2 separate regions of the Homo sapiens genome follow, and region 2 is linked to region 1. The links come from fine-mapping of genetic effects on gene expression. A gene starts in region 1. The other region holds a variant in brackets. All regions are shown on one strand. Distances are between the middles of the regions.

Region 1 (5,365 bases):
ACTGCACTGAGTGAGATAAGGTATGTAAAGCTAGTGAGCTAACACCTCTCTCCATATTGACACACATACACTCACCATGCATTGAAATACACTGACACACCAACACATGCCAACACACACATTGACACACAGATATACAGACACACAGCTAGCACACACTGACAATACACACGAACACACCGACACATCTACTCACACATCAAGACCAACACACACACTGACCCACACCCCACCGAAGGAGGCTGGAGGCCCAGGCCCCAGGAGGGACTTGTAGCCGCAGGTGGGCAGGTATTGGAGGAACCAAAGGGTCCCAGGAGACTTGAATTAAGCACTTAGTTCAGGTCTTCGAGGTTCAGCGTTTTGGAGGAGGAGGACGCAGTGAGGTTCTGGTAGTCTCTAGGGACAGGAGGGCCGAATGGGGCATATGGATGAGACACCAAGGATTCCGTGCTCAGGTGCCCCCAGCGCTGGGCCGGTAAGTACGGAGCTTCAGTCCGCGAGGAGTGCTAAGGCGGGCGGGGCAGTGCGTGGGGGATTCTCCCGGGAGACCCGCAGCCCTCCAGTCCCCTCCCGTTCCGGCAGCAGCTTTCTGCTCTGGCTTCCAAATTCTCCCCTTTTGTCCCACCACCACCCAAACCCCAAGTCCAGATCGGGGCTAGTGACCTCGGGGCCTTTCAGTCCACCACGCCCTAGCCTTTGCCAGGGAAGAGCCCTGTCCCAGACACCCAGCCTGGAAGCCGCCAGTCACCTCTGACTCCCCGCCCCCATGCGGTTGGGGCCCAAGCCTCACCGTGGTTCCTCAGATATAGCACTGGTCCCCCGTGTCACTGCCAACCCAGTCCAGGGCTCAGGCCCTGCCCCAAAGCTCCAGAGAGTCTGAAAGACTCCAGCTGCCCCTCTTCCTTGCCACCGCCATCCGCCCTATGGCCTGCGCCTTCTGTCTCGCGGAGCTCCTCTGCGCTGATCCCTGATTTTGCCAGGCTCTTCTCTTTAGGCCGCTCCTGGGTCTCCAGCACAATGAAGGCGCACAGTGGCGCTCCCTGAATACTTGGCTCTTCATGACTGTCCTTACTGCTATTCCCTCACTGTGTCTCTTCTTTCTTCTCCCCGCCCCCCTCGCACGCATCCAAGTTCTCTGCCCTCAGCTTAATAGAGTGCCTCCTGACTGCGAGGCCCTGCACTCGGCCCTGGGATGCGTTTGCTGAGTCCTTGTTCTCCAGGCGCACAGGGTACATACATAAAGGGCTTCCCGAGAGAGTGTGAGAAGCTCCATCCAGCAGGTGGAACCAAGTGCCAGGCATGCTCTTCTTTGGCTACTCCATTTTCTTGTCTTCCCTGACTTCTCCGAGACCAGGGCCTCTGGATCGAGTCCCTTCTTCCTCTCTCTCCCTGGTTCCTTCTTTTCTTTTTCCCTCTCTCCTGCCTCCTCCTCAGCTGCTCCAGCCTTGGGCCTTTACGGGGTCATCTTCCATGCTCCATTGGGGCCCCCTCTTGGGCCCGGGTTTCCTCCATAGCCTTGTCATCCCCTCCCCCATCTGGGGTCCCTCTGGCGGGCCCAGGTCTCTCTCCCACACCAGGGAACCTGCCCTTTTGAGGAGTGGAATGTACTGTCCCTCCCGCTGGGGCCTCGGGCATGCCAAATCTGCCAGCGTGCTCCAGTGACAGGGAGCTAGCAAGAGGCCAGTCCCAAGAGAGAGGGGAGGGCGCCAAGGCCGGAGAAGTGGAGAGGTGCCCACGAGAGAGGACCCGCGGAGGTGGGCCACGGGGATAAGGAGGGCGGGCGGGCGCACCCCTGCCTTCGGAAGTTCTCTCCTCTGCGCCCTATTGGCCGCCTTGTCCCGGGCTGAATGAGGGTCAAGGAGAAATCAGGGGGCGGGACAGAGTGACTGGAGGCCGCTCCCCGTCACCCGCCCCTCCATTTCGCTCCATAGAGCTGAGAACCTTCATCTCCAGCCCTTCCTCTGGTACTAGAAGGGGTGGGTGGTCTTGCTGAGCGTCTAGGGCTGGGTCGGAGAGAGGAGGCGTGGGTTCCGTCTGTACTAGGTACCCAAAGGTGGTGAGCTTGGCTCCACGAAATTACAGCCCACAGCACCCAAGGCTTGGAAACCCCAGGGCAGAAGCAGCGTCTCAAGACCTCTAGCCTCGGACCCCACATGCCACAGCTCAGCTCAGTTGCCGGGCTGCAGTGCGGCTCCCCCCACGGGCCCCCTTTCTAAGCTCTACTGTGGAGCGGCAGGTGCCGCAGGCCTCCCCGGTACCTCGGCCGCAGCTGCGCTCCCGGGCCATGGAGGGAGGGAGACACGACAGTGGGGCATCGAGACTCCAGCGGCCAAGGCGCACCCATCTAAGCACCTTGGGATCTCGGTGGAAAGGAAGGGGGGTAACGGGGGCCGGGAGGAGAACTGCAGAGCTCGGCCGCTGAGCAGAGTATGGGAGGGGGGAGGGGCGGGGGCTCCCTTCCAGCCTTCGGGGTCTGGGGACTTAGGGATGTAAAGGAGAGCAGGGGGGTGTGACAATTCAGCAGAGGTCGGGACGTACCACGGAGCCAAGTGGCGGGGGGGGCAGAGGACGTGGTCACCGAGGGGAGCCCCCGCCCCCCTTCGTAGAAGCCTATGGCTGGGGTTGCAGGAAGAACTGGAACTGGTCTGGCCATAGGGGGAAGCGGCGCGTTAAATCCGCCCCCTCTCCATACCCTACTTTCAAGGGGTGGGCGGTAGAGGGGAGGTTGGGGTTGGAGCAGCGGCGAGGGGGCCCCTCCCTTGCACCTCCCCCCACCGGACTTGGTCGCGCCCGAAGTGTAACACTTTCTCTTTGTCGGAGGAGCTCCTCTGTTTCCTGTGCAGTAGCTCCCGTTGCGGCGGCACCCGTGGCAGCCCTGGCGGACGCAGGAGCGATGGCAGCGACCGATATAGCTCGCCAGGTGGTAAGTGCAGAGCTTGGGTGCCAGGGCCGGGGCCGAGGGCCTGGTGAGGGTCAAGGAGACCTGGCCGCCGCCGCCACATCGCGAGGAGGGCAGTGGGCAGCATCCAGGAGCCAAGGGCACGGTGGGACTTCTGCTCCCGGGGTCAGCAGCTCAGTCCCTCAGCCTGTCCCGGAAAACGGTGGTGGCGCGCGGGGGGCGGGGGGCGGCAGGGGGGCAGGCAAAACCTGCGGGCCGGCGGCTGAACTTGCATTGCCCAAGAGCCGCAGTGAGCGCCACCGCCTCCCTCGCTGCAGCTGCGGCCCCACGGCTGGGGCGTTGCCGAATGAATGGCCGTAGGAGCCGCCGAGCCCTCCGGGTCCCTGGCACCCTGGCCTTGCCGCGCCCCTGCGCACGGCTGCCCGTTGTGACCCGGGACCGCACAGGCAAAGAGGCGCGGGGCTGGGGTTAGCCTGGGGCAGAAGGCGGTGAGTGGCGAGGGGGGCGGGGAGGTGACTGGCTGGGATAGGGTTTCTCTATATGCATTACATATGTGACTGCGTCTGTGTGTGTATCGGTGTGCGCGTATGTGTGCACGCGCGCGCGCTCGTGTCTTCCCGGGCGGGCGGCGGCGGCGCCGGGGTTCTGTCTGTGACCCAAAGAAGTCCGCGTGTTTCTCTGAGTGTGCTCACCTCTGTGGTGTGTGTCCGAACGCCTCTCTGTCTGCTTGTGCTGTGTGCCTCTGGGTCTCATTTGTGCGTCAGTGTGGGGTGCAGTTGGCTGGCCTGTAGGTGGCTGGCTGCGTATTTTGGCATGTTTTGGAGCGGGCCTCTGAGGATCTGTCTCGGGTGCATGTTCAGTGTAACTGGGCTTGTGTGCCAAAACCTGTGGAGCTGGCTTCTTTCTATGGAGACTCAGGAAAATAAGTGTGAGACTCGCAAAAGCGGTGCCGTCTCTTTTTTTGTTGGCGACCGACTCTGGGAAAAAAAAAATCTTCATTTAAAGAACTGAAGTTTTCCAGCCTGGGATGTGCAGAGAAACCATGTTGAAGTGACCTGAGGCTCCATGTTTGTTTTTTAAACCAGAAGTTTGGTTGCAAAGGGCGATGAATTCCATTTGGGGGGGACACCCTAGCTATTCTATTCATCCATGGGTATCTGGGACTTTAATAAGCCCACCAGCACCCCGAGGTGAGGAAGGAGTGGGAGACAGAGGTAGGTCAAATCCCATGACACCACATACTACTTGACGAAAATCTCTGAACCACATAAAAATGTTTTTCAACCTTGTAGCTTACTTATTTAGGAAAATAGTTCATGCAATGCAACTACAGTACAAAAAAAAAGCCTCTAGGTATTTGGTGTAATTGAAATTGATTTTACAAAATCTGAAGCCAGAATCTGATAATATTTTCTCTACAGAATATGTATTAATGTCTCTTTTGTCCCTGTTTGGAAGGGCAGGATCATTTCTTCGGAACCTCCTCCACCCCCTGCACACCCTAGCACAGAGCACTTTATGCAGTCATGTTGTGGAAGGACCAGGAGTAGACAGGGGACATTCTCTGTGATGATGCAATTTGAGAGAATTTTCTTCCCCCAAGATTGGCACTCTCGTTGTTTATTGCTTTAGTGTTTTGAGGGCTCCCTCTTTTCTGCTGTGGCTTTTCTGCTCCTGGTTACCTGCATTTCAGAGATGGTATAGCTGAAGTAGAGGAATTAATCTCTGGGATTACACTAGCTCCATCCAAAAATGACGCTAATGATTTTTCATGTCAGCTAATGAATTTGCATCGACCTGTCCTCCATACTCTCACCAGTTTCTCTTGCCTGGATTAGGATTGCAGGGCAGATGTTGCAATGGGGAACATTCCAGAAGGTTGTGTGTGTTTCACCTCAGGCACAACTCAGGCAACCTAGAGATGCCCTTTGTTCTGCAGATGGGGGTGAGGGGGTGCTTTAGGGCCACTTGGTTTGCTTTGCATGGCTCCAGTTTGCTCTGGCTGGCCTTGCCATACTGTATGATGAAGAACATAATTGTACGCCAGATTCTGAAGCTGAAAGAGCAGCCTAAGCACTCGAGACCTTGTTATCGTGATAAATGGGTTTCTGGGAAAACTGACGTCACTCTCCATGCCCCCCTCCCCCAGCCAGTGAAGCTCCTGTTTATGTGTCATTTGTCTCTCTGTTCTCCTTTGTGTCTGCAATAAGTTGTAATTCACCAGGGAAGACGGAGTTAACTCAGGAGACCTTGGACATCTGGTTGCTGCTTGTTTCCTCCAAGGAACATGTATTCAGGGTTTGGGAACAGAAGACTAGAGAATAAACCTAAGTGTGGCTAGCTTAGGAATTCTTTTTTTTTTTTTTTTTTTTTTTTGAGACGGAGTCTTGCTCTGTTGCCCAGGCTGGAGTGCAAGTGGCATGATCTCGGCTCACTGCAACCTCAGCCTCCCAGGTTCAAGCGATT
Region 2 (5,365 bases), 51 kb after region 1:
TGCAGTGCAGTGGTGCGATCTTGGCTCGGCTAACCACAACCTCCGCCTCCCAGGTTCAAGCAATTCTCTGCCTCAGCCTCCCGAGTAGCTGGGATTACAGGCGCCCGCCACCACGCCCGGCTAATTTTTGTATTTTTAGTAGAGATGAGGTTTCACCATCTTGGCCAGGCTGGTCTTGAACTCCTGACCTCGTGATCCACCTGCCTTGGCCTCCCAAAGTGCTGGGATTACAGGCGTGAGCCACCACACCTGGCCGAAGACCCTTTTTAAAGAGACATCATGCAGTGTTGGGCTAGCTTGTCCTTCTGCTGTGTGAGGATGCGGCAAGAAGGTCCTCACCAGACCAGAATGCTGGTGCCTTGATCTTGGACCTCCCAGCCTCCAGAACTATGAGGAATAAATTTTTTTTTTTTGAATAAATTTCTATTGTTGATAAATTACTCAGTCTCAGGTAGTTTACTGTAGCAAGACAAAATGCACTAAGACAGATGGTGAATCTAGGAATGGACTCCCAAGGAAGGCTTGCGACTATCTCTTGTTGGAGTTTTCTGACACTGGGAAATCTGATATCCGAGGGCGCCTCATTGGAAGTCTGAGTGAGAGAGTCACACAGACTCTCCTGAGAGGCCTGTTTGTGTTTCAGCAGCAACACTGCCCTGCATCTATCAGAGTCTCTTCCCTGGGTCCACACATAGAAAATGTCACCACTGTCTGTCAGTTTCCTGCAGAGACCTGGGAAAAATAGCAGAAAGCCTGGCCTCAGATTTGGATCCCATTGGTAGGACCTAGAAGTATGGTCCGTGGTGGTGCGGGGGGAGGGTGGGTATCTGCTCTCTGCTCTGCTCGACTCTATTCTGGTTGTCAAAGCCATCTGTCTCTCAAAAGCAGTGGAACAGAGGGCCAGAGCCTGGTCCCCATGATTTCCTGCTTGTCATGGTTTGCTTCCTTCTAGCAGATGCCATGTAGCCAGGAGGCAGAGTGCGGACCACCCTAGGTGGCTGGGAGAGGTTGGCAGCCAAAGCTCGGTGGCCTCGCTGCTGCTTCAGAGGATCTGGGCATGGGGGTTAGGGACCTAGGCAACTCGTTTAACCTCCATGTATCCCAGTTCCCTCAGCTCACGAATGGATCTTTTAATCATTGCCATAGAAGGATGTTGTGAAAATCAAACCAAAGGAGAGCGCTGGGAAATGCCTACCTTGCATATACTTATCAAAGCAGACTGACGCCAGCTGCAAAGGAGCGTGCTGTGGGAGGGCTGGGGCTATGTTTTTGAGCTAGAAGAATAAAATGACAGCAGTTTGAGAAAGAGGGGGAAGCAAGTCACCCTATCATTCTGACGGTGTCTCTTGATGGTAAAAATGCAACAGGCCCGAGGGAATACTGACATTTTTGTATGCCTTTGTTTTCTTCTTGGTTTTTTTTTTCCTCGAGCTCAGAGAAGCACCTCCCAATTCACATGCCTTCCTCCTCCATCACTTACAGCTGAGAGCCCAGGAGGAGGGAGTGCTACAACGTGGTTTTTCTTTATCACCTCCTCCCTCAGTCTAGCTCTCTGCATTCGCCACCCCTTGGCTCTTCTGTGTCATGTGGCTGAAGCTGTGGGGTCTCTCCAGGGGAAATGTCCTCCCAGAAAGTGTTTAGGGGTGGATTCGAGGCTCCCGATATGTCTTAGGTCCCTGAGTAGGGATGAATTGTGCCCAGATCAACTCTCCTGGCAAAGATTGGACATGCTTAGGCCCTTGGGCAGCATTTTCAGGAATTCAGTGCTTCCCAAATGCCCTGTGTGTCACTTGCCCAGTTACTCTTTTGGTCATTCCCCTCCCAGGACTGATGAAACATTTCCCACCTCCACCCCACACCCACCTTCCATAATCCATAACCTCCTCTTTCCCATGTCCAGATTTAAGGGACAGTCAGTGGAGTGGGGAGGGGTCGGAGGGTGTCTGAGACGATCGTCTGATAGCAGCTGAGAGTGGAGAGGGTGAAAGAAGAGCAGCTTCAGCTGGCGGCCAAGCAATTTGAGGGACTGGTGGAGGTCCTGGAGCTGAGCTCCTGATGAAATCCTGTGTTCTTCTGCTCTGAAGGACATTTTTGGGGTCCAGAGCTAGAGGAGAATGGAGAAAAGAATTGACTGTGAGATCAGCCTGTGGATTAAACAAACAAGCGACAGATTTGCTGTGGGTTTCCCTGAATTGAATTGCCTCTGATAATCTGGTCTTGCACAACTAGTTCCCCCCAAGGTTTAGAGTACGCACCTCATCTACTGCTTGAACCCCCTAAATGGAGGTAGCAGACCAGCAAGGGGTGGGGTTTGAAGTTATTCTGTTCCTTACTATTGTGTGCCTGCTGACAAGTCTCTTAGCCCTTCTGGACCTCAGTTTCCCCATCTAAAGAGGAGACTAATAAGGCAACTTACCATATAGTGTTGTAGAGATTCAGTGAGACAATGCCATGTAAAGCAGCTGGTACCCAGTGCATAGGGCTTAACAAATTATTGCTAATGCTAATGCTGTTAGTATGATTGCCACTACCTACTCTGAAACAACTTATTTGACTTCCCAAGAATTGCTCCCTCCTCTGTGTTACTCCAGCCCTTTAGCCTCTGTTTACAACCTTGATTTTTCTTTTTTTTTTTTTTTTTTTTGAGACTGGGTCTTGCTCTGTCACCCAGGCTGGGGTGCAGTGGTGCGATCTCGGCTCACTGCAACCTCCACTTCTGGTACAACCCTGATCTTCCTGTATGATCGTTGTTGAGATGGCTTTCTCCCTTGGCACACTGTGCACTCTCCGGGGCCAGGGTCTGTGCTTTTTTGCTATTACGTCATTCTTAATGCCTAGCACATATCATAGGAGCTCAGTAAATATTTGTAGAATGGATGAGTGGGCAAATGGGTCAGAATATCTGAGATCATGGCCTGTTTCTGCAGGCAGGCTAAGAAACTTTCCCCATAGGCTCTTTACCTGTTGGTGTAAAGCCCTTTTGGGCAAAGCCCCACCTGGGCTCACCTGGTCAGTAAACATTGATTCCGTGGTTCCATCTGGCTGTGGTGACTTAGCACTTACAAGCTGGCTAGCTCCTTGTGGATTACGGCTCTGTGAGTGTTTCCTAGGCCCCATACTGCCAAGTCGGGGCAGCTCTCTCTTCTCTCATCC[A/C]TAAAGCCAGGCCAAGCTCCTCATTTTCCCTGTGAGCACCAAGCTCATAAACCTATTTGTCCTTTGCCTTTCTTTCCTCTTTCCCTAGCCCTACCACTGCCATTCAGGAAGTATTTATTAAGCACCTACTATGTACAGGGTACCAGACCATATACTTGAGCCCTTGATCACATACTATCTTATATGACTTGAGTTATGTAATTTGGGCTTCCTCAACAAGACTGTAAGCTCCTAGAGGGCGAGGGAGCGTGTCTTCTGCTGCTTCTGTCTGCCTTATAGCACCTACAGAAGAACCCAGCATGGTCATGTGAGTAAATCCTTGGTGACTTGCCTTCTAGGCTCACAAGTTCAATGTGAGCTCTTTCTCCGGGGAAGGATGAGAACAAGGAGAGTACAGCTCAGTTGGCTGTGTGGTCTCAGTATGGACCTAGTCTTGGGGCTCTTGCATGCCAGGGAGGGAGAAGGGCCAGTGATCCCAGACCCTTTGGTACTCCTTTATCCTCTCTATCCACACAGAACCCCCCTCATTCCACTTCCCCTTCTTCCAAAGGCTCTTCCCCTCAGCAGTAACTATGAATAGCGAATAGTTTGGTAATCTGTGTGTCTGCTTATTATTCTGCTTATTTTCTCTCTTTGTTCCCTATGCATTCAGCCATGTCATTGTTACCCTCTATTGTGAATTTCTGAACAGCAGAGGCTTGGACTAGGCCTCTTATCCTCACATGGTTTGGGAACTTAATAAATGCTTGTTGGTGATGATGACAGTGAGGGACATTGCAGGGTGAGGGCCTGGGGCCCCAGAGACGAACAGCAGTTGGGTTGTGTAACACTCAGTGCCTTTCTTCTGCAGTTCTCAGCTTTCGTTTGCCTTCGGTTTCAGGCCCACCTGCCGTTTGCTGTCATTGGCAGCACAGAAGAACTGAAGATAGGCAACAAGATGATGAGGGCGCGGCAGTATCCTTGGGGCACTGTGCAGGGTGAGTGAGTCTCCGGGAAGGGCTACACACAGGAAGCCCCTTTTGTCTGTCTCTTTGTTTGTCCCCAGCCACTATATGACAAGTTTCTAAATTGTCCCAAGTCTCTGCTCATTCGGCATGGGTCCCAAATAGCCATAGGGGTCACTAGCAAGCTAACTCTGGCTCCATACTGGGATGCTCTGATGGGAGCAAGCTCCCTCTAATTTCTAATGGGAAAGGTATTCCTAAAACACAAGGACTTGCAAGGTAGGAAGGAGTGTGCGAAAAAGCATGTGTTCTTGCCCAAGTGCACCTGAAGAATGTTCACAGTAGTGTTGTTTGTAATGACAAATAATTACAAACAATTCAGATATTCTTTAAAATAGACTGGATAGGCCGGGCACAGTGGCTCACGCCTGTAATCCCAGCACTTTGGGAGGCCGAGGCGGGCGGATCACGAGGTCAGGAGATTGAGACCATCCTGGCCAACATGGTGAAACCCCATCTCTACTAAAAATACAAAAAAAAAAAAAAAAAAAAAAAAGACTGGATAGTGGGAGGGTGGGAGGGGGATAAGGGATTTAAAAAAACTACGTGTTGGGGCTGGGCGCGGTGGCTCACTCCTGTAATTCTAGCACTCTGGGAGGCCGAAGAAGGCGGATCACCTGAGGTCAGGAGCTCGAGACCAGCCTGGCCAACATGGTGAAACCCCGTTTCTACTAAAAATACAAAAAAAAAAAAATTAGTCAGGTATGGTGGCATGTGCCTGTAGTCCCAGCTACTCAGGAGGCTGAGGCAGGAGAATCGCTTGAACCCGGGAGGTAGAGATTGCAGTGAGCTGAGATTTTGCCACTGCATTCCAGCCTGGGCGACAGAGTGAGATTCAAAAAAAAAGAAAGAAAGAAACATACCATTGGATTCCCTTTGTATGAATTCCAAAAGGAGGCAAAACTAAACAAGATATATATTCTTAGGAATGCATACATAAGAGGTAAAACTATAAAGAAAAACAAAGGAATGATAATCCCCAAAGTCAGGAGAAGGATTAAGTCTCTGCCAGGGGAGTTGAGGGATAGAGGGGGATGAGATTGGGAAAGGGCACTCAGGGGCTTCCAAGGTACTGGTAATGTTTAACCTGAGTTGTGGAGACATTGGTGTTAATTTTTCAAAAATTCTTTAAATTGTACATACACATTTCATGCTCTTTGTATGTATGATTATTTCACAATTGAAAAGCAATTAGACATATTGTATTA

Direction of the effects. Alleles are on the strand shown, and positions count from the first base shown. SD is a standard deviation of normalised expression in the study named.
With allele A in place of C in region 2, the expression in macrophages of the gene that starts at base 2,831 in region 1 is higher (large effect, 0.80 SD a copy in Alasoo 2018).

What was found. PIP is the estimated chance that this variant, and not a neighbour inherited with it, causes the effect.
Region 2: its variant is the best candidate, but not a certain one, in a credible set for the expression of SEPTIN6 in macrophages (Alasoo 2018, PIP 0.57).

Annotation. Positions count from the first base shown.
Region 1 is chrX:119,690,634-119,695,998 of GRCh38, reverse strand. It overlaps SEPTIN6 (septin 6), which reads left to right and starts at 2,831. Exons shown (of 11, transcript NM_145799.4): 1 at 2,831-2,923. The coding sequence starts at 2,894. RefSeq lists silencers at 2,588-2,637, 3,148-3,277 and enhancers at 2,818-2,947, 3,768-3,817.
Region 2 is chrX:119,639,457-119,644,821 of GRCh38, reverse strand. It overlaps SEPTIN6 (septin 6), which reads left to right. Exons shown (of 11, transcript NM_145799.4): 6 at 4,034-4,130. Among named protein-coding and RNA genes, the nearest start is that of MIR766, 4.7 kb to the left of the region's middle. The variant A/C (reference allele first, on the strand shown) is at 3,154.